7 linked regions of the Homo sapiens genome follow. The protein of the gene in region 5 purifies or fractionates together with the protein of the main gene of each other region. This does not show direct contact. Each region holds a gene or a part of one and is shown on either strand. Other genes may lie near its edges.

The links.
Region 1: the proteins of CDC14A (region 5) and ASCC3 purify together in Homo sapiens (affinity purification with mass spectrometry, with the first as the bait; one large-scale study listed by BioGRID). This does not show direct contact.
Region 2: the proteins of CDC14A (region 5) and DDX27 purify together in Homo sapiens (affinity purification with mass spectrometry, with the first as the bait; one large-scale study listed by BioGRID). This does not show direct contact.
Region 3: the proteins of CDC14A (region 5) and SMC4 purify together in Homo sapiens (affinity purification with mass spectrometry, with the first as the bait; one large-scale study listed by BioGRID). This does not show direct contact.
Region 4: the proteins of CDC14A (region 5) and MARK2 purify together in Homo sapiens (affinity purification with mass spectrometry, with the first as the bait; one large-scale study listed by BioGRID). This does not show direct contact.
Region 6: the proteins of CDC14A (region 5) and ABCF2 purify together in Homo sapiens (affinity purification with mass spectrometry, with the first as the bait; one large-scale study listed by BioGRID). This does not show direct contact.
Region 7: the proteins of CDC14A (region 5) and SRRM1 purify together in Homo sapiens (affinity purification with mass spectrometry, with the first as the bait; one large-scale study listed by BioGRID). This does not show direct contact.

The regions. Positions count from the first base shown.
Region 1 is NC_000006.12:100,647,330-100,650,829, forward strand, and holds part of ASCC3 (activating signal cointegrator 1 complex subunit 3), read right to left. Parts: intron 3,386-3,500; coding exon 3,209-3,385; intron 123-3,208; coding exon 1-122. UniProt on the Homo sapiens protein: ATPase involved both in DNA repair and rescue of stalled ribosomes. 3'-5' DNA helicase involved in repair of alkylated DNA: promotes DNA unwinding to generate single-stranded substrate needed for ALKBH3, enabling ALKBH3 to process alkylated N3-methylcytosine (3mC) within double-stranded regions.
Region 2 is NC_000020.11:49,236,416-49,239,915, reverse strand, and holds part of DDX27 (probable ATP-dependent RNA helicase DDX27), read right to left. Parts: coding exon 3,406-3,500; intron 968-3,405; coding exon 861-967; intron 681-860; coding exon 578-680; intron 1-577. UniProt on the Homo sapiens protein: Probable ATP-dependent RNA helicase. Component of the nucleolar ribosomal RNA (rRNA) processing machinery that regulates 3' end formation of ribosomal 47S rRNA.
Region 3 is NC_000003.12:160,413,150-160,416,649, reverse strand, and holds part of SMC4 (structural maintenance of chromosomes protein 4), read right to left. Parts: intron 3,178-3,500; coding exon 3,037-3,177; intron 2,284-3,036; coding exon 2,133-2,283; intron 400-2,132; coding exon 235-399; intron 1-234. UniProt on the Homo sapiens protein: Central component of the condensin complex, a complex required for conversion of interphase chromatin into mitotic-like condense chromosomes.
Region 4 is NC_000011.10:63,908,315-63,911,520, reverse strand, and holds the end of MARK2 (serine/threonine-protein kinase MARK2), read right to left. Parts: intron 2,645-3,206; coding exon 2,284-2,644; 3' UTR 501-2,283; downstream 1-500. UniProt on the Homo sapiens protein: Serine/threonine-protein kinase. Involved in cell polarity and microtubule dynamics regulation. Phosphorylates CRTC2/TORC2, DCX, HDAC7, KIF13B, MAP2, MAP4 and RAB11FIP2. Phosphorylates the microtubule-associated protein MAPT/TAU.
Region 5 is NC_000001.11:100,516,506-100,520,777, reverse strand, and holds the end of CDC14A (dual specificity protein phosphatase CDC14A), read right to left. Parts: intron 2,528-4,272; coding exon 2,498-2,527; 3' UTR 501-2,497; downstream 1-500. UniProt on the Homo sapiens protein: Dual-specificity phosphatase. Required for centrosome separation and productive cytokinesis during cell division. Dephosphorylates SIRT2 around early anaphase.
Region 6 is NC_000007.14:151,217,206-151,220,705, reverse strand, and holds part of ABCF2 (ATP-binding cassette sub-family F member 2), read left to right. Parts: intron 1-1,546; coding exon 1,547-1,642; intron 1,643-1,832; coding exon 1,833-1,952; intron 1,953-2,055; coding exon 2,056-2,145; intron 2,146-2,514; coding exon 2,515-2,625; intron 2,626-3,500. Other genes in the region: ABCF2-H2BK1 (ABCF2-H2B protein), read left to right, coding at 1,547-1,642, 1,833-1,952, 2,056-2,145, 2,515-2,625.
Region 7 is NC_000001.11:24,660,302-24,663,801, reverse strand, and holds part of SRRM1 (serine/arginine repetitive matrix protein 1), read right to left. Parts: intron 3,084-3,500; coding exon 3,003-3,083; intron 2,493-3,002; coding exon 2,406-2,492; intron 1,143-2,405; coding exon 998-1,142; intron 620-997; coding exon of another isoform or gene 578-619; intron 1-577. UniProt on the Homo sapiens protein: Part of pre- and post-splicing multiprotein mRNP complexes. As a component of the minor spliceosome, involved in the splicing of U12-type introns in pre-mRNAs. Involved in numerous pre-mRNA processing events.

The sequences.
Region 1 (3,500 bases), on a different chromosome or scaffold from region 5:
CTAGCCCAACCCCAAAGCCTCTTGTCAATGACTTTACTAAGATTCAGGAGCCTGTAGGTCATGGTAGGCCAACGTTTCCTCAGAGCAATTTCAAAAAGAGCACGGACAATTCTAGCTGCATTCTAAAAAATTATAGGAGGAGATTGGTGGTTATACCCAATGTGCTTTTAAATTTGTCAATAAATCTATTATTCAAACTCAGTCTGAAAAGAAGTGCAAGTCAAGCTGCATCCTTGAATTGTGGGGCAATATCTTTTCTCATATAATCCTAATTATCTTATTATTTCTACATAAGAATAATCCTATCCTTTATATGTGGATGCTACTTGCTTACTCTCAGAGGGGAAGCCTTATTTCCAAGTTCTTAGAAAGCTCTACCTTCTAAACAGGAATGAAGTAGGAAGAGACAAAAGGCATGCAAAATATTTAGGAGGCTGTTAAGGCATCTGACTATAAGAGACAAGGACGCCTCTTGGTGAATAGTGGAATGATTAAATTTACAAGGCTATTTAGAGGATTAAGGAAGACTGGGATCCTGATAGGGAAAAAAAATAATGAGAGAAGGGTGACAAATGAAATACTGATTAGTGTAGCTACTCATATGAAAGGGCCATACAAATGGCTTCCTATAAACCAAACAATGTGTTAACTTGCTTTACATATATTGCCTCATTTAACTTTTACAAAAATTGCATTTAATTGATATTAATATTATGATTTTATAGATGAATATACTAGGGCTTAAAGAGGTAAAAAATTTGACCAAGGTCACACTGCTAGTTGGTGTCAGAGCATCTACTCAAAGCCAGGACTAAAGGACTCCAAATATAACTGAGATTCTAGACTCAGTGGTCTGAGGATAACTTTATTAATAGACATATAGAAAGTTATAATGAATGTAGTCTTTTTCTTCACATTTCTACAGCTAGCTCCCATTTATTTTGCCTCCACTCCTCTATCATTAACTTTGCAGATTGTTTTATTAAAGATTGTTTTTTAAATGAACTTATACCTTCCAAAATCCAGTAACATCTGTATTTGAAAATAAAGAATGTTCAGTCTGGTTAAAATCCAAACAAGAGATACAAAACTGAAAAGATTTCAAATGGCAGACAAACAATCCAGCCTAAAATTATGAAGTCAAAAATGACAGATGAGTTAAAGGCTTTCATTTCACATTTTATATAAGATATGCGCTGTCTTTTGATAAATTTGACTATTTTGTTTCAGTATTAGAAATTAAAGTACAAAATGGTAGATAGAAGTATGAGGACAGTTCTGATATCCATTAAAAATGACTGAATGGGTCTTTATAAGGCCCAGAGAATAATAAATAAAATTTTGATTACTGTATCTACCAAATAGGTTTTCCTACCTCATTCCCACTTGTTCTTACAAAAAACTATCAGGCTAATTTTCCTGCCTTTGAAAGTATGTCATTTTAATATTTCAGGATCTACAGTTATCCCCTCAATGCTAAAAGAAGTAGGAGAAATTCCATATGACAAGATACAAACAGGACATGTTAATCTAGAATGATATAAATTGGTTCAAAATAATAAGTCTATAACATGTACAGTCTAGAAAAGTTAAGCATAGGCCTTTAAATAAAATCCTAGAATATTTGAGCTATAGGTTTACCTTAGGGGCTGAGGAGAGAAAGTTTAAAAAATATAGAAGAAAATATCATTTTACAGAGTTGAGAGAGTAGTTGTTCAATTACTGATAGCTTAAACTTAAAATGTAATAAAGTATAATTTATCTGATGCATTCAGGGATGCTAAATCCATAATGGCTGTTTAAGAAAAAACAGGGATGCTTTGAGATATCCTTAATCAGAAGTTGACTTCCTGGATACCAATCATGAAGAGAATTAAAGTTTTACATTGTAAGCAATTCTTATGTCAGTCTCTGATAATATCTTCATAATCTTGAAGCAAGCAGAAATGTTGCCAGATTATTCATCCAGAACCCAGTAAAACTTTACCTTTTATTTAAATGATTAACTATTTCAATATAAAATCATTAGAAAATATAAAATGACAATATTACATTACTTTACAGAAAAACAGATAAAACAAAGGAGATTAGAAAATTATTCCTATAGAAGCTATAGGGTTTAAAGAATATATAAATATTTTCACTACATCTATATTAACTTTATATAATTTATGAATTATATAACCTGGTATCTTGGTTACATTGATTAAATTACTACATGCATTCAAAATGTTTACCAATATGTCTTGGTTTGTGTTTGTAAATATTCCATGTTTAAAGGACTCCTGAGTACTCATGGCTATTAATAATGATATATTTAACACAAACATTCTTTTTCTATATTTAGTCTTTCTTTGAACAAAATTACAAATATAACAGCAGAATCATTTCCATATTTAAAATAAAATTAAGCTTTAATTTCTTCTTAATTTATAAAAGGAAGTACTCAATAAAATAAAATTAAAAAGCCTTGACAGGTAAATAATTTTTTTAAAAAAGTATGTCTAGAAGGGAAATCTTTCATTTGAAGGATAAATAGGGTAAAATATAACCTACTTTACTTCACATAAGGGCTTGAATATAAAAACACAAATATTTGAACAGTTTATACCATGGTATTTTTTAAAAGTTATAAATTAAATGAGCTGTAGTTTAGGGAATAATTTTCTTTCTGTCCTCAATGTTTAAGTTTCAACAGTAGAGAGGAGAGATTACTTTTGTAAAAACCAGAGACATCACACTGAACGTATGGTAGGAAATATGTTTACTACGCCTTGTTTAATGATTAAAAATATTATTATTTCTAATATTTGGTAAAAATCTAAAAAAGTTCCACAATCTTTTCTTTATGCTTGCAATATTCTTTAACTTTTCTCTTTATAAGTACTTTATATTCTTTTACTTTATAAGTAAAAGAAATGAAATTCATCATTTAAAGTAGAAAAAAATCAGGTATCATTTTAAAACTTTGTAAGAAACATCAACATCACCAAAAAAAGCCCTATCAGTCACCAAATCTCATCCCCAGTCCTGTTTTATGAGCATAGATTACATAAAATATTTACAAATTAGCAGAAACAGTTCTAAGTAAAATGGTGGTTTGGTAGCATGTCACAAAGCAATGCATTCATAGCACAGCATGAATTAACACCTTGGTCCTCTAAATATATTCAAGGAAGAGAAAACTGGAAGGGAATAAGATACTTACCTGTGCAACATATGCAGAATCTGATATAAGGGAGAAACTGTCCATTTCTCCTCGGCTGATATAAGTTTGAAGTAAGATGTTTATTTTCCCATAACTATTCTCTACACCTCCAGGAGTGGAGAGTTCACAAAAATTGCTTAATAAGGTATCTAACTCCTCTATTTCCTCTTCTCTGACCTAGAAGAATCAATGTATTTATTGGAATTTTGGGGCTGATTTATTTAAATTTTTCACATTGAAATTAAATACATTGCATGTTTTTAAAGAGTTTCCATTTACTATAATGCAGCAT
Region 2 (3,500 bases), on a different chromosome or scaffold from region 5:
ATGGCATGTATCAGAACTTCATGGCTGAATAATATTCCATTGTGTGTATATAAACACACACCCCAAATTTTGTTTATCCATTCACTTGTTGATGAACATAGTTTGTTTCCACCTTTTTGCTATTATGAACAGTAATTCAAAGAGCACTGGCATCTAAGTATCTGTTTGAGTCCCTGTTTACATCCTTTACAACAGTGGTCCCCAACCCCAGGCTGCATACCGGTTCCAGTCCATGGCGTATTAGGAACCAGGCTGCACAGCAGGACGTGAGCATTGGGCAACCAAGCATTGCCACCTGTGCTTGGCCTCCTGTCAGATCAGCAGCAGCATTAGATTCTCATAAGAGCACTAACCCTATTGTGAAGTGCGCATGCGAGGGATCTAGGGTGTGCACTCCTTATGAGAATCTAATGCAACCCCCACACCCCAAATGTGGAAACATTGTCTTCCACGATACTGGTCCTTGGTGCCGAAAGGTTGGGGACCGCTGCTTTACAGTATAGAACTAGGAAATGGAACTGCTGAGTCCTGTGGGGTAATTCTGTATTTAGATTTCTGCGGAACCTCCCTGACTTACTTTTCTCCTTCTTCCTCTCTTCTTTGGTCTGGAACCAGCTCCTCTCGGGCTCTTGGACCACTGCCTCCTTCCCCTTCTCCAGGAGCCGCTTTGCTGTATTGATCTGTAGAGATAACAAAAGGATGCCTGCCGTGAAACCCGTATCTACTAACACAGGAAGCCACGGGCTGCAAATGCCTGGGGCTCTGATGGGAGAAACATTTCAGAAGGGCAGCACCAGCAGGGATGCAGCAGCTTGCTTACTGAGCAGCCTTGTGAACAAGATCCCGCCTCGCAGCCTCACCTGGGCTTCTGACTGCTGCATCTCTTTTTCCTCCGCCTCTAGCTGCAGAACTGCATACACATCTTTCTCCATTTTCTCAATCTTGTCCCGGAATTTGAGGATGACATCTCAATGGGAGAAAATAAAAAGGATTTACAAATAAGGGTAGGCCAGGCATGGTGGCTCACACCTGTAACCCGGCACTCTGGGAGATTGAGGTGGGAGGATTGCTTGAGCCCAGGAATTTGAGGCCAGCCTGGGCAACGTGGCCAGACTCTGTCTCTACAAAAAAAAAAAAAAAAAAAAAAAAAGCCAGGCACAGTGGCTCATGCCTGTAATCCCACGCTTTGGGAGGCCAAGGCAGGTGGATCACCTGAGGTCAGGAGTTTGAGACCAGCTTGGCCAATGCTGTGAAACCCCGTCTCTATTAAAAATACAAAAATCAGCTGGGTGTGGGGGCACACGCCTGTAATCCCAGCTACTACTCAGAAGGCTGAGGCAGGAGAACTGCTTGAACCCACGAGGCGGAGGCTGCAGTAAGCCAAGATGACACCACTACACTCCAGCCTGGGCAAAAGAGCGAGACTCCATCTAAAAAAAAAAAAAAAATTAGCCATCATGGTGGCACACACCTGTAGTCCCACCTACTCAGGAGGCTGAGGAGAAGAACTGCTTGAACCCAGGAGTTCGAGGCAACAGTAAGCTATGATCGCACCCCTGTACCCCAGCCTGGGCAACAAAGCAAGACCTTATCTTAAACAAAATAAGGCAGTGGCTCAAGCCTGTAATCCCAGCACTTTGGGAGGCCAAGGCGGGTGGATCACGAGGTCAAGAGATCGAGACCATCCTGGACAACATGGTGAAACCCCACCTGTACTAAAAATATAAAAATTAGCTGGGCGTGGTGGCATGCACCTGTAGTCCCAGCTACTTGGGAGGCTGAGGCAGGAGGATCACTTGAACCCGGGACGCAGAGGTTGCAATGGGCCGAGATCGCACCACTGCACTCCAGCCTGGCAACAGAGCAAGACTCCATCTCAAAAATAAATTAAATAAAATAAAATAAGGGTGACTACTAATACTGTGTAACTGATGAAAATAATTTAGCTGTGCATTTACTGACATAGGAAATGGTGTCTGTAATGTGTGCCTTCTCTGCTTCATATCCCCCAGACTCAGAGTGGCCCCTGCCTACCGCTCTGATCTTCTGTGTGTCCCTGCTCACCACGCCTGAGCCTCCTGACCTTTCTCTTGTTCTCACACACTAAGCTCGTTCCTACCTCACAGCCTCCACCCTTGTTCTCTCAGCTCAGCACTTTGCCCTCAGACCTCTCATGGCTGCCTCATTCCGATCACCCAGGACTCAGCTCCAATGCCAGCTGTGCAGAGGCCTTTCCTTAACAGCTTAATGAGGCAGTCTCCTCCTGCTGTTCTCAATCACATCTACTGTTAGCTTATTTATTGTCTCTTTCTCCCAGAACCACAGCTCTGCTTTGTTCCCTGCTGTATCCCCAGCACCTAGAACAGAATCAATAGCACTAGGCCCACAGCAGGACTCAATAACTAGTCGCTGATTAAATGAAGACAATGAAAATGAAAAAAATAAAAGGGACATTTAAGAAAGGAAAAATGGTTTGAAAAGACATACACCTAAATGCTACCAGTGGTGAGCTCTTTGACACAGAATTACATTTTTTTTTATTTACTAATTTCCAACAATAAATACGTACTTTTCATTTCATTTTTTAGAGACAGGGTCTTGCACTTTTGCCCAGGCTGCAGTGCAGTGGCACAATCATAGCTCACTGCAGCCTCAACCTCCTGGATTTAAGAGATCTCCTGCCTCAGCCTTCTGAATAGCTGGGACTACAGGCACACACCACCATGCCCAGCTAATTTTTTTTTTTTAGAGACAGGCAGCTCACTATATTGCTCAGGTTGGTCTTGAACTCCTGGCCTCTAGCAATCCTCCTGCCTTGGCCTCCCAAAGTGCTGGGTTATAGGCAAGAGCTACCATGCTCAGGCTAAATATGTATTATTTTTATAACTTTAAAAATTTTTAAGGCTGGGCATGGTGGCTCATTACTGTTAATCCCGGCACTTTGGGAGGCAGAAGGTGGGTGGATTGCTTGAGCCTAGGAATTCAAGAACAAAACAAAACAAAAAAAGACTTTAAAGAGGATGTGCTTTATAAGACCCCCACAGATCAGAGGAACAAAATCAATGAAAGGACCCAAAAAGAATGAGTACTGATCTCTCTCTTCCCCACCACCAACAGTAAGGGAAAGAGGAGTTTAGTGAGAATTTTGCCCCAAGCAACCTTCTCTTCTCAATTTCCACCTAAATGGGGCACTGTGTTTACAATTCTGTCATAATTCCCTTCTACACACAGGAGGCAAGCTCAGAGAGGTGAGGTGAAACCTGCACATGGTCACTCGGCAAGGAAGCAGCAGGGCTGGAATTCAAATCTGGCTCTGAACTGCAAAGTACCTGCTCTCAGCCATTACACTCTGTCCTTGCCCCGCCCACCGAGCCATTCTGCACTGCCACAGGGGTGCCTGCTCACCTTGGGGAAGTATCCTGGCCTTCACAGGGGCCTTGGCAGCTTTTACAATCTCCTTCAGCATCTTCCGCTCATCTTCTCCCACCAGAGAGACTGAG
Region 3 (3,500 bases), on a different chromosome or scaffold from region 5:
TGACATCACACCTTCTGCTACTACTACAAACTCTCATTTAGTAAACTTTTTAAAAAACATGTCAGCAGGAATTAAAAGAATAGTCATCTAAGTCTAGGTTGACTAGTTTTAGGAATGTTGGACATTAAAAGTCCAAACTTACCAGTTCAGGTTTCAGTATTTTTGAAAAAATAATCTTTAAGTTAAAAAAAAAAAAGCCACCAAAATAAACACTGATAAAAAAAAAAAACTTACTTCTTTTTCTTTCTGAAGCCCTTGTGTTTCCTGTTTAAGGCTATCCATAACTTCCTTTAATTTTTTTTCTTCTTTCTCTTTTTCCTTCTCGAGGGCATTGTTTCTGGTTGTTGTTTCATTAATGATATTGTTACTCTTGGCAGGTATACTTTTAAATTCTTCAACCTGAGATTATAAAACAAGTTATAGGAGCATACATCTTTATGTTACCCAATACTATCAATATTTGACATATTTAAAGGCATTTCTCAGGGTCCTCTAGTTCTTCTTTTCTTTATAATCAGAGTTAAATTAGCTAGCTTTAACAAGTATTTTCCCGACTATTCACTGTAATTTCTATATTCTCTCAATCTAATAGTAAAACTACTTCTACAAACACCTGACCTCTTATGAAGGAAAACTGTCTCTGGCAGGGCCTCAGGTCTGTCATCCTTCTCTCCTGATTTCAGGTTGTAATTATTCTTCTTTAGCTATAAATATGCTCTGACTACACGGAATTTTCTAAACTATCCTTCCTGGTATATCATAACTTACCACAAATTATCTTTACCATCTCCCCAACCCTAAAATCTTTCACAACTTTACTCTTCCAGAGTCATCATGTAGGGCTAATATTTTACTCCATTAACATCTTCTGATAATAATCACTTATCCATGCAGTCTATGCCTAAAGGCTAATCACTCTGTAACAGTTACACTTAGCTAAGTCTGTCAAGTCTTTGGGGTTACCCCCAAAGCCTTGTTATTTTGTTTACTCTGATTATCTAGTACCTGTGAAGTTCAACATTTCCCAAAATGCCACTTCCTTAAACACTGACTCAACGTATTTATCAGCTGTGCTAAGCAGAAAGTATTTTGTGAACAAATACATTTAGAAAATGCTTATAGCGTAAAGTAGAGCCTAATCTATAATTATTGTGTAACCATATGGAACAAAGCTTTTTTTTTGCGGGGCTGGGGTTAAGGTATCATATCTGTTTAAATATGACAGAGCTATGAACATGAACACAGCTTAAGAGATTCCAAATTATGAGCTTTCCTATCTCTCTTTAAGACACAGAGTCTCACTTTGTCACCCAGGCTGGATGCAGTGGCTTGATCACTATTCACTGGAATCTTGAACTCAAGGCATCCTGCCGCCTCACTCTCCTGACTAGCTAGGACTTTTAGGCAAGTTCCACTGAGCCTGGCTAATTTTGGATTTTCTGTAGAGATGGGATCTTACTATGTTGCCCAGGCTGGTCTTAAACTCCTGGCATCAAGCAATTCTCCAACTTTGGCCGCCCAAAGCACTGGGAATACAGGTGTAAGCCATTGTGCCTGGCCAACATTGGTAATTCTTGGGAAATCCTGCTCTGATCCTGTTAGCTTAGTTTTTGTAGAAGACAGGCAATATTTTTAAGTCTGTAATACCTAACTTAAATATCTTTAAAAACTACTACTTTAGGAAAAAGAAAATTAAAATTAACACCAAAATGGAACTCCTGATTTGGTAAATGTTTTCCCAATAACATATTATTGTAATATAAACTTTAAAACTCAAAGTCAAGCTAGGAGCAATGGCTCACACCTGTAGTCCACGTTACTTTGGGAGGCTGAGGTAGGTTTCTTAAGCCCAGGAGTTCAAGACTATAATCATACCACTGCACGCTAGCCTGGACAACAGACTGAGACCCCATCTCTGCAAAATTCCAAAACCAAACAAAAAACCTCCTGCAAAATAAAGTCAGTAGAAGCAAGGTTTCCCTTGAGGGGGTAAAATCATGTTCAGAGACAAACCTTAAAACAACATTTAGAATACTAATTCATTCTCTTAGGCAATAAGGGGCAAACACATCCATGAAAACTAGGTATGATATTCAGACGTGAAATTTTAAGAATTTTTTTCTAACACCTACCTTTTCTTTATCTTTTTGAAGTTGTTTCTCCAGTTTTTTGGCTTTACTCGTGGCATGTTTTAACTTTTCTCTAACTTGAACATCTTCCAAATCTAGCTGTGTAAATTTTTCTTTATTCTCCTCAATAAATTTTGTAATTTTATTCAGTTTCCTAGCAAAGCAAGTATATTGTAAGTCATTATTTTGAATGTGCACATATTTTAAAACCACATTTCCTACCTGGAACACTTCCTCTATAAATATGTCCAGGCTCTTAATAAGGCAGGATCCTAAAACTCTCCTTATTCCAAGATGATCCCTCTCCCCATAGTTGAAGAAGCACCTGTATTTTTGATTATGACAGCTATTTTGCCTTTCTAAGTTGGAGGGAAAATAACACATTTTCCAGTGACTACAATGTCTAGGTATATAAAAATTTTACCATAGGAGTAAAATTTTGGTTTTACCTTTTACGAATATACTTACAAGTTACTATACAATAAACTTACTATACAAATTTTTTTATTTAAAAATAATTAGAGATACTAGTGTCATTGAAAAATGGCATCAAGTAGGGACATGATAAAACCCTTAAAAATCTATCTAGAAAAACCCAAATCCTATCCCTCTATCAGATTTGTGGACTACTAAAAGATTAAACTGTGAAGCCAAATGCTTATTGTTTGTTACTGTGCTACGCCACTAGGGGGTAGCATCCCCACGGTTCTAAGACTTCAGAGTAGGGAATTTCATCTGTAACAAGGAACTGGATGCAAGGCAAGTTTTTTTTTTTCACTAAGGGGGCCACCACTTGATATGCTGGCAAATGTCTTACACTCACAATGTGCTAGAAGTAACTTTATATATAAATACACATGTAATACAATTATCTAAATACTTTTAGTACTTCCCAAAATATTATTACTTTTCTGTATCTTTTACATCTTTATTCTTAGCTTTCATTTCATTTGATAGTATATTGCTCTTCTCATTAATTTCTTTGGTATCTTCATGAATTTTTTCCTTTTGAGTTTCCATTTCAGCAATTCGTTTCTGCAACTCATAACTATAGGGAGGAAAAAAAAAAAAAGAAATTGAAGCTCCTAAAATGCCATTTCCAAAACTGTATAACAATTTTAGTAAAACTAACTGTTTCTAAAATATTATTAACTAGTCAATATATGACTGCCTAGGCTATGAGGGGAAAATCCCCCTGGGTCAAGGCTAGAATTTAGGAACAAAAATCGATTTCATTGTACCAATGTGGTGGCCGACGCCTGTAATCCCAGCACTTTAGGAGGCTGAGGCAGGCAGACTGCCTGAACTCAGAAGTTTGAGACCAGCTTGGGCAACATGGCGAAACCCCATCTCTACCAAAAAAAGAAAAAA
Region 4 (3,206 bases), on a different chromosome or scaffold from region 5:
AGGGCAGTTGGGTGTGCTGGCTGTTCTCATTCCTCTTTCCCTTCTTTTAGCAATAAGTCTGGGGTGAGGTGGGGAGGGAGGCTGCAGGGGGGGAGGTGGGCAGAGGGGCCTTACAGCAGCAGAGGCTGGAAGAGAAGCTCTGTCTTCAGGGGCCAGCTGGGAAATGCTAAGGAGCTGAGGGTGCCCACCAAGCCCACCTTCCAGAAACTTGGAGAAATGGGGGTTGGGAACTTATGCAGACATGGATTTATTTTTCAACATTTTTTAAAAATTAAAAAAAATAAAATCTAAGCTTACTGAGTTTTCTTTCCCTTTTGGTGCAAGGGCCCTGGGCTTTGCTTCCTGTCTGTGCCCTGTGGGTAAGTGGGGAGCTGGGCCCACCCAGCACTGGCCCCAGACAGGAATCAAGTCTCTCCTGCAAGGCAGGTGGGCTAGGCCACATCTTGCCCACAGGAGACTGGGTCCCTGCCTGGCTGGGAGAAGAAACAGGAGGAGGCAGCTCAGATTCCAAACATTCTCTTTATTACGTGTTTGATCCAGAGGAGAAACTAAGTGCAGGGTTGGGGAGGAGGGGGCTAGACGGGGAGGGGCCACCTTGCCTGGGTGCCCCGGGCCCCTACCCCCTTTGGGAGCCAAGCCATGCCCTCCCAGCCCCCTCAGAGCACCCGGGCTGTTCCATAGGGCAGGAGGGGGGAAGGGAGGGAGGGGGAGCCCTTGGTCTGAGCCGCAGTAGGAGTGTGGGGCAGGAGGGCTGAGGTTGGCAAGGCCCCTTCCTAGGACGCAAGGGCTCGGCTTAATCGCTGAGCCTGGCCTGGGAGCGGGGGTGATGAAGAGGGGTGGAGTCATCATAAATCAAAAAAAAAAAAAATAAAATAAAATAATAAAAAATAAAACCCATCACAAAAAAATGTACAACTCAGGTGAGGGTAGGGGCAGCCTCTGTGTAGGACTCCCACCCCCAATTTCTCAAGAACAGAAACAGCAGAGAAATAAATTAAGGGATGCAGTGGCCACCACCAGCCAAGCGCCCCAAACCGCCCACGCCCACACTGGCCACTGAGGGTAGCAAGCTGGGAGTCGCTTAGCCTATCTGTCCCCCACCCTGTGGAGGGCAGACGCTCCCGGCCCTGCTGCCTAACTCAGCCTTCTGCCAGGTGGCCCTCGGCAGTGTCTCCTGAGAGGAGGGGGCGACAGTGTCAGGAAGAAAAGGCAAGGCTGAGAGATGAGAGTGGTGAGGGAAGTCACTGCTATGGAGAGAGCTGGTGCCCAGATTAATGCCAATGAAGGGGAAGCCATGGGGAGAGGAAGGGCGAGGGGGCTGTGCTTTCAGACAAAGGCTCCCCCATCACAGAGTGCCCAGTGGCCCTGCTCTGGAGACCAACAGCCCAAGCGGCCCCCTGGGGACCGAGAAGCCAGTCTGCCCTCCAGTCCCCTCCCCTCTCCCAGCCCTGGGGTCAGCCCCTCCTTCTACCCGGGAGGGGTGGGAGAAGATGGCACAGACTTTGAGGGAACACACGTCCCCACAGCAGCTTGTGGAAGGAAATGCCCAGCTCTGGGGAGGAGGGGCAGAGGGTACAGTGTGGAGGGAGGCGGAGCCTTGTGCCGGCCCTCCAGCCTCAGCAGCCCCGGAGCAGCCCCCAGCCCCACCCACTGCAGGGCTGCGCAGCACCCCCGCCCCCTGCCCCACCGCCCAGGCCTCCAGCCCAGGGGCCTGAGGTCAGGGGAAGGCCACCTCTGGTGGTTTGCTTGGAGGGGAAGGAGGGAGGAGAGGGGAGAAGCCCACAGTGGGCCTGGCGGAGGGCCTGACGGGAGCTCCACCACTCTTGCCTGAGAGTGTTCCAGCCCTGAGCCACCCTCCCGGGAAACCCCACAGATCCAGTCTCGACTGTCCCAATGGGGCAGGGAGGAAAGGTGGCCGCTGGGATTTTTTTTTTCTTTTTTCTTTTTGGTAATAAAAAATTTCTTGGTTTAGGCGAAATACTCTGTGCAACCGCAGTACCGAGGGGGAGCCCTGCCCCCCCATCCACCCTCCCCTTCCTTTGCCTCCAGTAGGGGAGAGGAGAAGGGGGAATCTCTGGGCAGGGGTGAATGTGGGGTGCTGGAGAACAATCTCCCACCCCCCACAAACATGTAAGAGAAAACTGAGAAGGGCCAGGGAGGGGAGAAGTGCCAGCAGGGGAGACACACCAATCCATCGCTGCAGTCTCGCCCAGGTGGGGCGGCGCAGCGGCCGGCAGCCCGTCCAGCTGGCCCGCCCCCGCCGCCCCCGCTCCTGGCAGCCTGTTAAAGCTTCAGCTCGTTGGCTATTTTGGAGGCAATGTTTTTGAAGGCCATGGAGGTGCCCGATATCCGCTTAAATCGAACCCCGTTGAGAGAGAGCCGCGGCAGTTTGCACACCTCCATCTCCCACTGCACGAAGTCCTCGTGGCCCGGCGTGCCGTGCATGCACAGCAGCATGTACTTCTCATGCAGCTCGCTCTGGCAGCTGTTCGCGTCCAGCACCTTGCGGATCTCCCGCATCATCTCGTTGGGCTCCATGGAGCTCGTGGTCTTCATACTCCACGTGAAGCGGAGGGAGCGGGGCTTGGCCTCCCGAAATTCTTCCTTTTCTTTGTCGTTGCCGCCACTGCCCACCACGTGAGGTCTGTGGAGAGGGCAGAGGCGGGCGTCACGGGGGGGCTGAGGCACCCCACCCCAGGAGAGCCACCCTGGCAGACAGCCCCTGAGCCCAGAGAGGAGAGCGGGAGGGAGCAGGAGCAGCCAGGCGTGGCCCCTGGCCTGCGGGGGCGGAGGGTGGCAGTCCTCCAACCCCCATCTCTCAGGACAGCGAAGGGGAGGAGAAGCCAGCCTTGGGGTAGGCGGGGTGGGGTCAGGGAAGACACCAGTGCCCTCAACAGCACGAGCACAGACTCTCTCTCCAGAAAGAAGCCTCCGAGCACAGGGAGGTGGGATAGTCCAGGGGTAGGAATCTGTAGCCCCAACCACCCGACCCAGAACTCCGACTTCCAGAATATACCAGACCTGAGGAGAAGGGCCCGTAACTCCTGCAATTGGGTTTGGGAAGGGGAAACTCTCTGAGGAAAGGGAGGCCCCAGAGGGTAGGGACAGGGCAGAACCACGGGAGGAAGAGCCAAGTGGCAGAAGGAAGAGAGGAGCAGGAGGCTGTGGCAAGCCCGGTGGCCCGGGCAGGGCCAGTGCTGGCTCCA
Region 5 (4,272 bases):
TACTATATAAAATATCTCCAATAAATAGTGTAGCTTCTTCCTCCCAAACTGACTTTTCAGGGCATAGATCCAACAGGTGTGAGGTTTCTTCTAACTGATTTCTATAATTTCTCATTTAGGAAAAATGGCATTCTTTTTCAAAAGGAACTGGTGATCAATCACACAATAGTCATCAGTAGTCATAAATGACTAAGCAGGACCCAAAACACTGATCAGGATCAGTATTTTATTGACAGTAAAAAAAATAAAGGGAAAGCAAGCAAGAACCTAACATTATATGATTTTTGTGAAATTCAAAGTATAAGGTTTCTGTGAGCTCACTGTCATGTATTTCAGGCAATGGCCACAACCTAGAAAGTCAATAAAAGCTAAACTAAAATCCAGAATAGAGATCTTGAAACACTCAAGGCACTGACCACACTGAACCAAAAATAAAATTATAAAGAGACTTCAGTACATTGATAACTCAAAAATTCAAATTATAAACACCAAAAAATAAGTAAATTGAATAAAACTTTTATTATTTATTAGCAGTGTATTCTTCTACACTTTAAAATAGAGCAAAATATCTTTTGGAAGATAAACTATTCATAACAAAATACATGTCAAACAATTTTTATTATCAGAGTAAAATTACTTTGCTATATACTTTCTATATTATATACATCCACTTCTTGGTGTGTCTATGTAGGCACATGTGTAAAGTAATTTTTAGACATATACATGTACATACATATGACACATATACACACATAATTATGGGAAATTTACAGTAGTCAACTTTACAATCATTTTAATAGCTTCACACAAATTAGTGTTCACAGAACTAAAACTGTCAACATGATTCCCTTTCCCCTACTTCTCAAATGTCATCTGAATTACTTTTTATGATAACTTGAAAAAAATACTGTCATCTTCCTATACAATTAACCAATTTTTATAATAACTCATAATAAAATATTTTACTTTTTTAACTTTAGAAAAGATACATAATTCCACTTATTTTAGTTTTTGATTCCTAAATCATACAATTCGTTTTTTTCATCAGTTGAGTGTAATTTTTGGTACTGCAGTTACTGAAGGTTAATTTAACAAACCTGAGTCAAACATTCATTCAAATGCCTTTTTTAAAAACATAAAACATGAACAAGATGTTTTGATGAAGCATATATAATAGACTCAAGGTACCCTCCCCTAATAAATACATTATAAATAACTCAATGGTTGGGAGTAAAGCACTTCATATGAATCCATTTAACTAGCACTTTCAGTGTCGAAGCAGTCCATTCTTAAGCAGCCTGGAAGGATATCAGGATGTAACGCTCCTCGATTCCTCATAGAAATGAAACCTACAGGCTTCTGAAGACCTAAATATCAGATCATACTTACATGAAAGGGCTGTGAGTACCTATAAGGGTCCTTTCATTTTCATAGTAGGTTCCAGATATGCTAGCGTGTGCAGCAGGGGGTTGTACCCTGTTTTAAAAATATCTCCTTTAATACAGAGAACTACTTAGCAGCATCTTTTTCAGTTTTTTCTCTCCATTGATTTAAAACTGATGTCAAACCATGTGTGATTACAGGCAACAACAACCTCATACCCAAAGCAGGATATCCTAATTGGGTTAAGAACTCTTTTGAAAGGAGGAAGGAAAAAAAAACATTTGGAATATTGAGTCATTTCATAGAGAAAAACCATGAAACCATGCTCTCAGAAGAAATATTCAGTGAATTCTGATCTTTCACTGCATGCTGTATTTTAAAGCCCCCCAGGATGCAAAACTAACTCAAATTGGCTCAGCAACAAAAACAATAGGAAAGGGAATTGTCCTAAATAAGCCATCCCATGCCATTATACTCTTGGTAGAGATAAACTTGGATAAACTCAGTGTAACTAAACTGACTTCCCAAAAGAATGAACTGACCTGCCATATTTATAGTGCGAGCATAAAAATCACTTTCTAAAAACTTTCTCCCTTACTTCTTCTTAATAAGAAGGAATTATTTATTCATTAGAGACAAAACCATACTAAAACTAAACAGATTTAAAATACAAATTTTTGGTAGCAAACAGCAGGAAAATCTAAATCAAAATATAGTGTAGTTTTTACATAATTTTATATATTTATAAATTTATCAAAATAGTCTTTTAAAGTTCACAATACATATATAATGTAACACTGTACATGTAAATATAATAATAAATGTATTACCAAAATACATTAAAAATAACCCTTCAAAATACCAAATTCAACATTAAAACTGTCTTTAAAAGTATGGAAATCTCCATAAACATAGTTTCAGTGCATTTATAGTAGTCATTAACCAGTTTTCTGTTTTCAAGTCTCTTGAAGGTGTTATCTTAGTGCTCTTTTTAATTTAAGGTAAGAAGGCAGAGATATTCTTCCAGCAAGAAGTTGCTTTCCCTCTCCACTGCTCGTCCAGATGAAGAAATTGTGTCTAAGAGAAGAACAGCTTTCACTGGAGTGGCAAGGCCTTAGTAATGAACATATTCAGACTGAAGGGACTGTGCAGGGAGAGACATAAACTGAGGTTAAATTCCATCACATGTAAAACTTCTAGCAAGTCATGCAGCTTCTCCCTTCCACACAAGACAGCTTAGAGATCAATGAAATAAACTAAGCCAAAACAGAAACAAAAAGACAGGAGACACAAAGCATTAGCTAGGTAAGAATGAGATATTCAATTACGCAAAGTGATTGTAAGAAAACTTTATATTTTAAAAGGTTTACTAATTTATTTATAGTGATTAAAAAATTAAGTTTTAATTTAAAAATCGGTAGGTAGCCTAAACTCATCTCTAAGCATTTCTACAATTAATGAGTTTTACTTAACAATATTAAAAGATACTTTTAACTAATTAAAGATTACTAGAATATACTTTGAGATGATATATCCTTAAATTTAATTCAGTACATATCAATGGCATGCTTCTAATGCAGTAGAATTAGCAGCCATTTAAATAAATTCCTTAAGCATGCTTGAATTTATAAATATCTTACACATCCTTTCCCTTAAGGGGAAATGAAGTACTACCAGCTTGAAATCTGATCTTAAGACCCAAAAACATTTATGCAGAAGAGTCTTGCTGTCGGAATTTAATAAACAATAGGCAATTTTCAAGTAAACCATACAAATTCTTCCACATCACATTAGATACTAACATATAAAAGGATTGTGATTGGGATATGTAATCAGAATGCCTGGGACAACAGACATAAACCAGGAAAAGATAGAGAGTTACAGAAAGTTTGCCAAACAGTTATTTTTTTTAGCAGGAAACAGTGATTAGAAAAAGGAACATAAATCAATCTAAACATTAACAAATTTTTTGCTCAATTCTTCCAATTAAATACCTGAGGATAACAAAGTTTACTTGATTTTCTAGTAAATGCCCTTTTCTCCCACCCAATAATTATTTCTCAAATTAGTCTGTAACATTTCATTAACAGGTCTAGTCAATTATAAGACAGGTCCATTTTGGTGATGATATAGGTTATCAGTAAAAAAGAATCTGTCCATTTTCCAAAGAACTTACAAAAGGATTCAAGCTATCTTTTCTCAGCTTCAAAACTGCAGTGAATTTTACACCCCATGAACAGCCAAATGGCTGTTCCTGAGTAAGTCCCTGTTAACACAGTATGTCAAAGAGTTATGGTCCCTGACCGCAAAGGGCGAAAGCCACAATGTCATAACAGATGTGAAATGAAAAGACAGCGGTGTCGACATTAAATAGTAATATACATAGTGTAAAGTTAACATCGTGCACCAGGAAAGGCTTAGGTGAGAGGTAGTAAGGGAAATGGGTGGTTCTCAAGGCTGCCAGTTTCAAGAGCTGTAGGAAGAATGGAAAAGGTTTGGCTATTGACTTTCTTGTATGTGGTTCATGCTAATACTTCAAAATAGGTGTGAGATGATCAAGAATCAGAGCACTATACTATAAATATACCTGAACCCACAGTGCGAATAAAAGAGGTAAGACCCTAAGAAAGTCCAGTGAAGTTGGTCAAAAGCCTTGAAGCCCATATACATTCCACTTGAGGGACGCCAGCTACCACACTCGCAATTAGAGCATAAACATTTTTCTACCTGCTTTTTCTCGGTTTCTTCTAAGTCTGGCAAGCAGTCAGAGGGCAGAGCCAGTTAAGTCCCCCAGCTATAAGAATGCCACAAAGGTATGTTGTGCGTGTATGTGTGTGTGTGTAGCTCAGCTAGTGCTTTCTTGAGAATATTTAACTTTTACTTTTGTTC
Region 6 (3,500 bases), on a different chromosome or scaffold from region 5:
TCCCTCTGCCTTCTTGAATGCCTTCTTAATTCTGCTTCACTGGAGTCTACACATTTACCCCACCTCCCATGACCACAGGAGAATGGGGGTCAGGATCTCAATAGCCCACTGTTGTGCCTTGCCTTTTCATTTTATATTTCAAAAAGCATGTAAGAAACTAACGATTGATGTCCTCTTCATTCATAGTCATAGGAGTATTAGTTTATAATATAGCCTTCCAGAAACTTCATGTATACTTGCACACATTTGTAGAAAATGTCATGTATACGTAATCTTTTTCTTTTTATACAATTGCAGCTTTTTTTTTTTTTTTTTTTTGAGCTGGAGTCTTGCTCCGTCGCCAGGCTGGAGTGCAGTGGCGCGATCTGGGCTCACTGCAACCTCCACCTCCCAGGTTCAAGGGACTCTCCTGCCTCGGCTTCCTGAGTAGCTGGGACTACAGGCGCATGCCACCACACCCAGCTAATTTTTGTATTTTTAGTAGAGATGGGGTTCACCATATTGGCCAGGATGGTCTCCCTCTCTTGACCTCATGATCCGCCTGCCTCGGCCTCCCAAAGTGCTGGGATTACAGGCGTGAGCCACCGCACCCGGCCTCTTTTTTCTCGAGATGGGGTCTGTCTCTGTCACCCAGGCTGGAGTCCAGTGGCGTGATATTGGCTCACTGCAACTTCTGCCTCCCAGGTTCAAGCGATCCTCCCACCTCACCCTCCCAAGTAGCTGAGACCACAGGCACATGCCACCATACCCAGCTAATTTTTATATTTTTAGTAGAGACGGGGTTTCGCCATGTTGGCTAGGCTGCTGTCAAACTCCTGGCCTCAAGTGATCCACCCACCTCAGCCTCCCAAAGTGCTGGAATTACAGGTGTGAGCCACTGCACCTGGCCACAGTTACAATTTTAATAATCATTCTGTAGGTTGCTTTTTTAAATTTAGTATATTTTGGACTGCTTTCCATGTGAGTATATATAAATCAATCACAATCTTTTCAGTCACTGCATAGTATTTCGTTATGTGTTTATCCTGTAACTTGTTAGGCCCTTTCTGGTGGATATTTAGCTTGAGTCCAGTTTTTGTTTGCAGATAGAAACCATGGTAGTCCACTTATGCAGGGTTTGTCAGCTTCTAAATCTGAATGGTCTGTTTTCCCCTCTGGAGACAGCTCTTGCAGTCTTTTGTGGGGCTTCAGCCTCTAGGGAACGGGGAAGGAATAGGAGGTGGTATTGGAAGGCTCTGAGCCTCGTGACGTCCGTATGACCGTGATTTTCAGGACTATTCCCAGTGCCACAGGTGTCTTTCTAGCTAACCTAAGGATTTGCGCTGGAGCCTGGCCCTGGCTGGGCTGAGCGAGGGGCATAGAATTGAAAAGACTCCGATTTGATGTTAGGATATGCTTCTGTAATGCACGTCCTCTCTTCTTACTGCACAGCCTTAGAGCCAGGGCCAAGTTAGTGCCATCCCTCATCCCCCTAAACTCTGAGTGAGAATCCAGGATTGAAACCCAGGTTAAAGCTGCCTGCCTTACCTGGCACATTTCCATGCAGGGTAATTATGATCAGTACGTGAAGACGCGGCTAGAGCTGGAGGAGAACCAGATGAAGAGGTTTCACTGGGAGCAAGATCAGATTGCACACATGAAGGTAGGGAGACTGCAGAGTCAGGCTCATGGCCTCCTGTCTGAAAGAAGCAGGGGGCTCGGATGAGGGCATTTCGAGAAGCGGTAGTGATGGAGGATGTCGGGAAGAAGTTACGATCAACATTTTTACCCTGGATTGAAGATGAATTGTTGAGCGCCTGCACATACTCCAAGCTCTCTTTGGTCTTTTTTAGAACTACATTGCGAGGTTTGGTCATGGCAGTGCCAAGCTGGCCCGGCAGGCCCAGAGCAAGGAGAAGACGCTACAGAAAATGATGGCATCAGGACTGACAGAGAGGGTCGTGAGCGATAAGGTGGGGTGTGATTGGGTGGGGTGTGATTGGGTGGGGTTGGGTGGCCTAAGGTGAGGTGGATAAGAAAGGAGCCAACTTGATAAATGCCCTCTTTTCTTCCTAGACACTGTCATTTTATTTCCCACCATGTGGCAAGATCCCTCCACCTGTCATTATGGTGCAAAATGTGAGCTTCAAGTATACAAAAGATGGGGTAAGTTCAGGGCAGGGCATGGGTGGCTGGGGTGTATCTTAGGGTGAGTGGCAGCTCATGGGAGTTGCTCCTGTTCTGTGCTGACCACACCTGCTAGCCCACGTGCTCTGGGGGATTTTCAGGTGTGGCAGCTGGGGTGCCTCATCCAAGGCTGCTCGCGGGCCTTTCTTCGTGTATATGGAAAGAAGACTACTCAGCTGGGTTGGTGGGCGGAGGCAGTGGGCGAGGCGGGGTCTGCTATGAGTGCTTCCTCCCGCTACTCTCCCTTCCTCCTCTCTTGGTGACTGGGAATTCAGCGGGCTTGGTCTGCTGGTCATAGCAGATCTGTATTCTAGCCTTGTGTCCACATCTCTCTCATCCCCACCTCAGCCTTGCATCTACAATAATCTAGAATTTGGAATTGACCTTGACACACGAGTGGCTCTGGTAGGGCCCAATGGAGCAGGGAAGTCAACTCTTCTGAAGCTGCTAACTGGAGAGGTATGGTGCCAAGGTGGGCGTGGATCCCTCTAAGATTAGGCCTTGCGATGGTTAAGGAAGAGGGGAGTGATGCAGGGGCTACTACTTTGGGAGGGCCTGAGTACCCTGGTGGTGAGTGAGCCATCTGGAGGGGTGGAGCAGCAGCCAGGAGAGGGGGAATGTCTGGTTGGACAGTGCTGAGGCTGGGGGCTGTTTTCCTGGGACAGGGATAGGTAGGGAGGAGTCTTAGAGTGTGTGTGTGAATACATGTATGTGTTTAAGCACGTTTCTATTTTCTTTTTTTTTTTTTGAGGTGGAGTCTCGCTCTGTTGCCCAGGCTGGAGTGCAATGTGCGATCTCAGCTCACCGCAACCTTCATCCCCCGAGTTCAAGCAATTCTCCTGCCTCAGCCTCCCAAGTAGCTGGGATTACAGGCACACGCCACAGCTAATTTTTTTGTATTTTAGTAGAGATGGGGTTTCACCATGTTCATTAGGCTGGTCTTGAACTCCTGACCTCATGATCTGCCCACCTCGGCCTCCCAAAGTGCTGGGATTACAGGCGTGAGCCACCGCGTCTGGCCCATGTTTCTATTTTCAATCAGAGCATTTAGAATATAGGAACATCTGTGCATTTAGGGATGCTGCAGGTTCTCAAGTAATGTCATTTCATTAATATTGATGAAAAATAGAAATGATTCCCAGCTGGGGCCACTGTCTTTGTGGAGTTTGCACTTTCCCTTTAACGTCTACATGGGTTTTCTCTGGTACTTCAGTTTCTTCCCAATTCCAAAGCTGCACCTGTCAGGTTACTTGGAACGTCTCAGTGGTTCCAGTCTGAATGAGTGCGGGTGTGTGAGTGCATCCTATAATGGAATGGTGTCCTCTTCAGGGCTG
Region 7 (3,500 bases), about 76 Mb from region 5:
GGGTTCAAGCGATTCTCCTGCCTCAGCCTTCCGAGTAGCTGGGATTACAGGCACGCGCCAACACTCCCAGCTAATTTTTGTATTTTTAGTAGAAATGGGGTTTCACCATGTTGGCCAGGATGGTCTTGATCTCCTGACCTCGTGATCCTCTCACTTTTAATATTTCTAAAGTTTCTCCCTAGTTTTTCCTTGCCCTCCCTAATGTCACCACAAATACAAAGTCCCTCCCCCCAAATCTAAGGAGCAATAATCCTATCTCTGGAAAAGTATCCAGATACTGTTAAAAATCTGCGTGCTGCTTGATGTAAGTTGATGCAAATTATCACAAAAGAGCACAACCAGATATTAAAAATCTAAGTTCAAATAAGGGTCTAAACCAAATAGCTCATGTATAATTCTCCCTATCATTAATCTAATGTGTTAAAAAAAATACTCAAACCAAAACAACTTAGGATCTGCACATTCACAGCCACAGCCACCATATATTTAAGAATGAGATGAGGTCACCTAAATAGGAAATTAAGTCACTACAATTTTTGACATGTAACCCTAATTTACAAAGTAGTGTCTAACCAACCTTTTAGTCACTGGCGATTGCCATCGCTTTCCCATCTGCATCCTGAGAGCAGTGGAGAAAAACAAATGTCAAGAATTCCATTCACTAAATTATTTACTTGGGTGGATTAAGTACCATTAATGGAGACATTTTTAAATATTCAAAGATGTTCAGGAGTTACTGCTATAATAGTTTGGTTTATTTTTCTAATCATGCACACATATATGACATGGTGGTTTAAAATTTACCAATTCTAAATTAATTATTAATAACCACCAATAAAGCAAAAACAAAACAAAACAGAAACCCTAAAAAGCAAACAAAAATCCAACCACATCCAAATACTTGAAGGAGTTAACCAAATTCTCAAATAATCCCAAGTTATCAAATTTCATCACAATTACAGAACATCAGTGAACATCACTGAAGCAAAGATGTTACCGAGGGGAAGTCTCTTTTTGGCGCTTTCGTGGTGATGGAGAAGCACTCCGGGAAGGGGAATGTCTCCGCCGCCTGCCAACCTCACCATTCTTCACATGGGATCTCTTGGGTCGTTCATCTTCTGAGGAGGAGGAGGAGCCAGAGTCTATAATTACAAAATTAAAAAAATATTACATTAGGTTTGTGCTTGAATCTGTCCAAGTTTTCTGAAATCTAGGTGGATGGAGTGTTCACTAGGGTAAGCAAGCATGTATACAGGCCATCAGTTCTGAACAGAATCATTATCAATATATGATCAATGATTTCAAAGCCAAGCATATTATTTAAATAAGACATAGAAATAATTTCCACAGTGTAATCCAATCAAGATGGCATACTCTAAGAAGTTTGAGCTGGGCACGGTGGCTCACCCCTTTAACCCCAGCATTTGGGAGGCCAAGGCAGAAAGACCGCTTGTGCCTCCTGAGTAGCTGGGATTACAGGTCTGCACCATCATGCCTAACTAATCTTTGTATTTTTAGTTGAGACAAGGTTTTGCCATGTTGGCCAGGCTGGTCTCGAACTCCTGACCTCAAGTGATCCATCTACCTCAGCCTCCCAAAGTGTTGGGGTTACAGGTTAAGCCACCATACCCAGCCTGGTATATTCTTACAATAAAAAATGCAAATAGTAAAATAATAGGGTAGATTATTATTATTTTTTTTGTGGAAACAAAGCCTTGCTCTGTTGCCCAGGCTCCCAGGCTGGAGTGCAGTGGCGCGATCTCAGCTCACTCACTGCAACCTCTGCCTCCTGGGTTCAAGGGATTCTCCTGCCTGGGCCTCCCAAGTAACTGGGATTACAGGTGTGCGCCACTATGCCCGGTTAATTTTTGTATTTTTCGTAGAGATGGGGTTTCGCCCTATTGGCCAGGATGGTCTTGAACTCCTGATCTCGGCCTGCTCACCTCGGCCTCCCAAAGTGCTGGGACTACAGGTGTGAGCCACTGCGCCCAGTCTAGATTTTTAATAGGGAAAGATGTTCTAAATATACTGTTAAGTTAAAAAGTGAGGCAACATATCTACAGTTGAGCTTCTGTGGGGTTTTTTCTTTTCCTTTTTCTATATGCACAGAAAATTTCTGAATAAAAGCTTTAGGAGGTTGGAAAAAGAATGATACGTTTCCAATTTTATACTTCTGTTTTCTGTTTCACTATTGTATCCTAGGGACCTATTACTTTTATAACAATGTAACAGAAAATTAAATTTTGCAAAAGGACTTAAAACCAAAAAAAGAAACAATCCTGCCTCCTCAGACAGATTTCTATGTAGGCAAGTAAGTACTCATGCTGCACACACAGATGTTTATATACCAAGTATTTTTTAATAGGAAATACAGGTAGAAAAAAAACTTTCATCACCATCCATACCAGATGAAGACTGCTGGTTTTGTCGTCTGTATTGGCGTCTCTGCTGCACAGAATCTGCTGCAGCCATTTTGCCACCTTTATCTTCTTCTGAAAGATGGATGCATTTAGAAAGTGTTTCTTTAGTTAAGCATATAGAAAATTTGCAATTTGAATAGGAAAATAGTCTCTCAAACCTTCATTTGGTTGGATCAAAAATACAACTACTATATATTTTTTTTAAAAAGAGTTTAAAATGCCAATTCACAGGCTGATTTAGACTATCTTCACCAAATATAATAAAATTTATTTAGGCATTTACTACAGGTCAGGCTGGTGCCAAGCATTTTACAAGCAGATACAGTTAACTGTCAAAAACCTCTACTGTCCCTATTTCGGAGATGAAAGAAGAAAGGCTCAGATAAGTTAATTAAAACAGAAACAGTTAAATTCTGGAATGGGGGATTCCACCCAAGTCTGTCTGCCTTCAGAGTCTTAGCTCTTACCCTATACTTAATCTTCAAGCAGAAGGGGATGACCAAATGTGCAAAAAATCAAAATCAGCTTTAAGAAAAACAAAAACAAACAAACCAAAATCACAAAAAAAAACAACAAACTTACCCGATTCAGATAACTCTACTTTTCTAGGCTTCGGTGCTGGTGAAGGGGATTCTCTTTTCTCAGTACCTTTATGTTTTGTCACTAAAAAAGAATAAGAGTGGAAAAAAGCTTACGTACAAAAAAAGGTCTATACAAGATGCTTTTCTTTTAATTTTTAAAAATTTATTATTATTTTTAAATAAAGATGGGGTCTCACTATATTAGTCAGGCTAGTCTTGAACTCCTGACCTCAAGCAATCCTCCTGCCTGAGCCTCCCAAAGTGTTGGGATTACAGGCACAAGCCACTGTGCCCAGCCAAGATGCCTTCCTGCTATTACAAAAATGGGTGTGACTACTCTCAAAAAGAATTTATGAAGACTTAAAAAATTCCTGTAAGACCTTGTTGTCATATCTGAACATTATCTGAAGTGAGACAAGAATTTTTAAATGTTTAATGAAAAGCCTCAAAAAGTTCTACAATGATTTTCAAATCTTGAGATTCTCCCAAGAAAACCAAC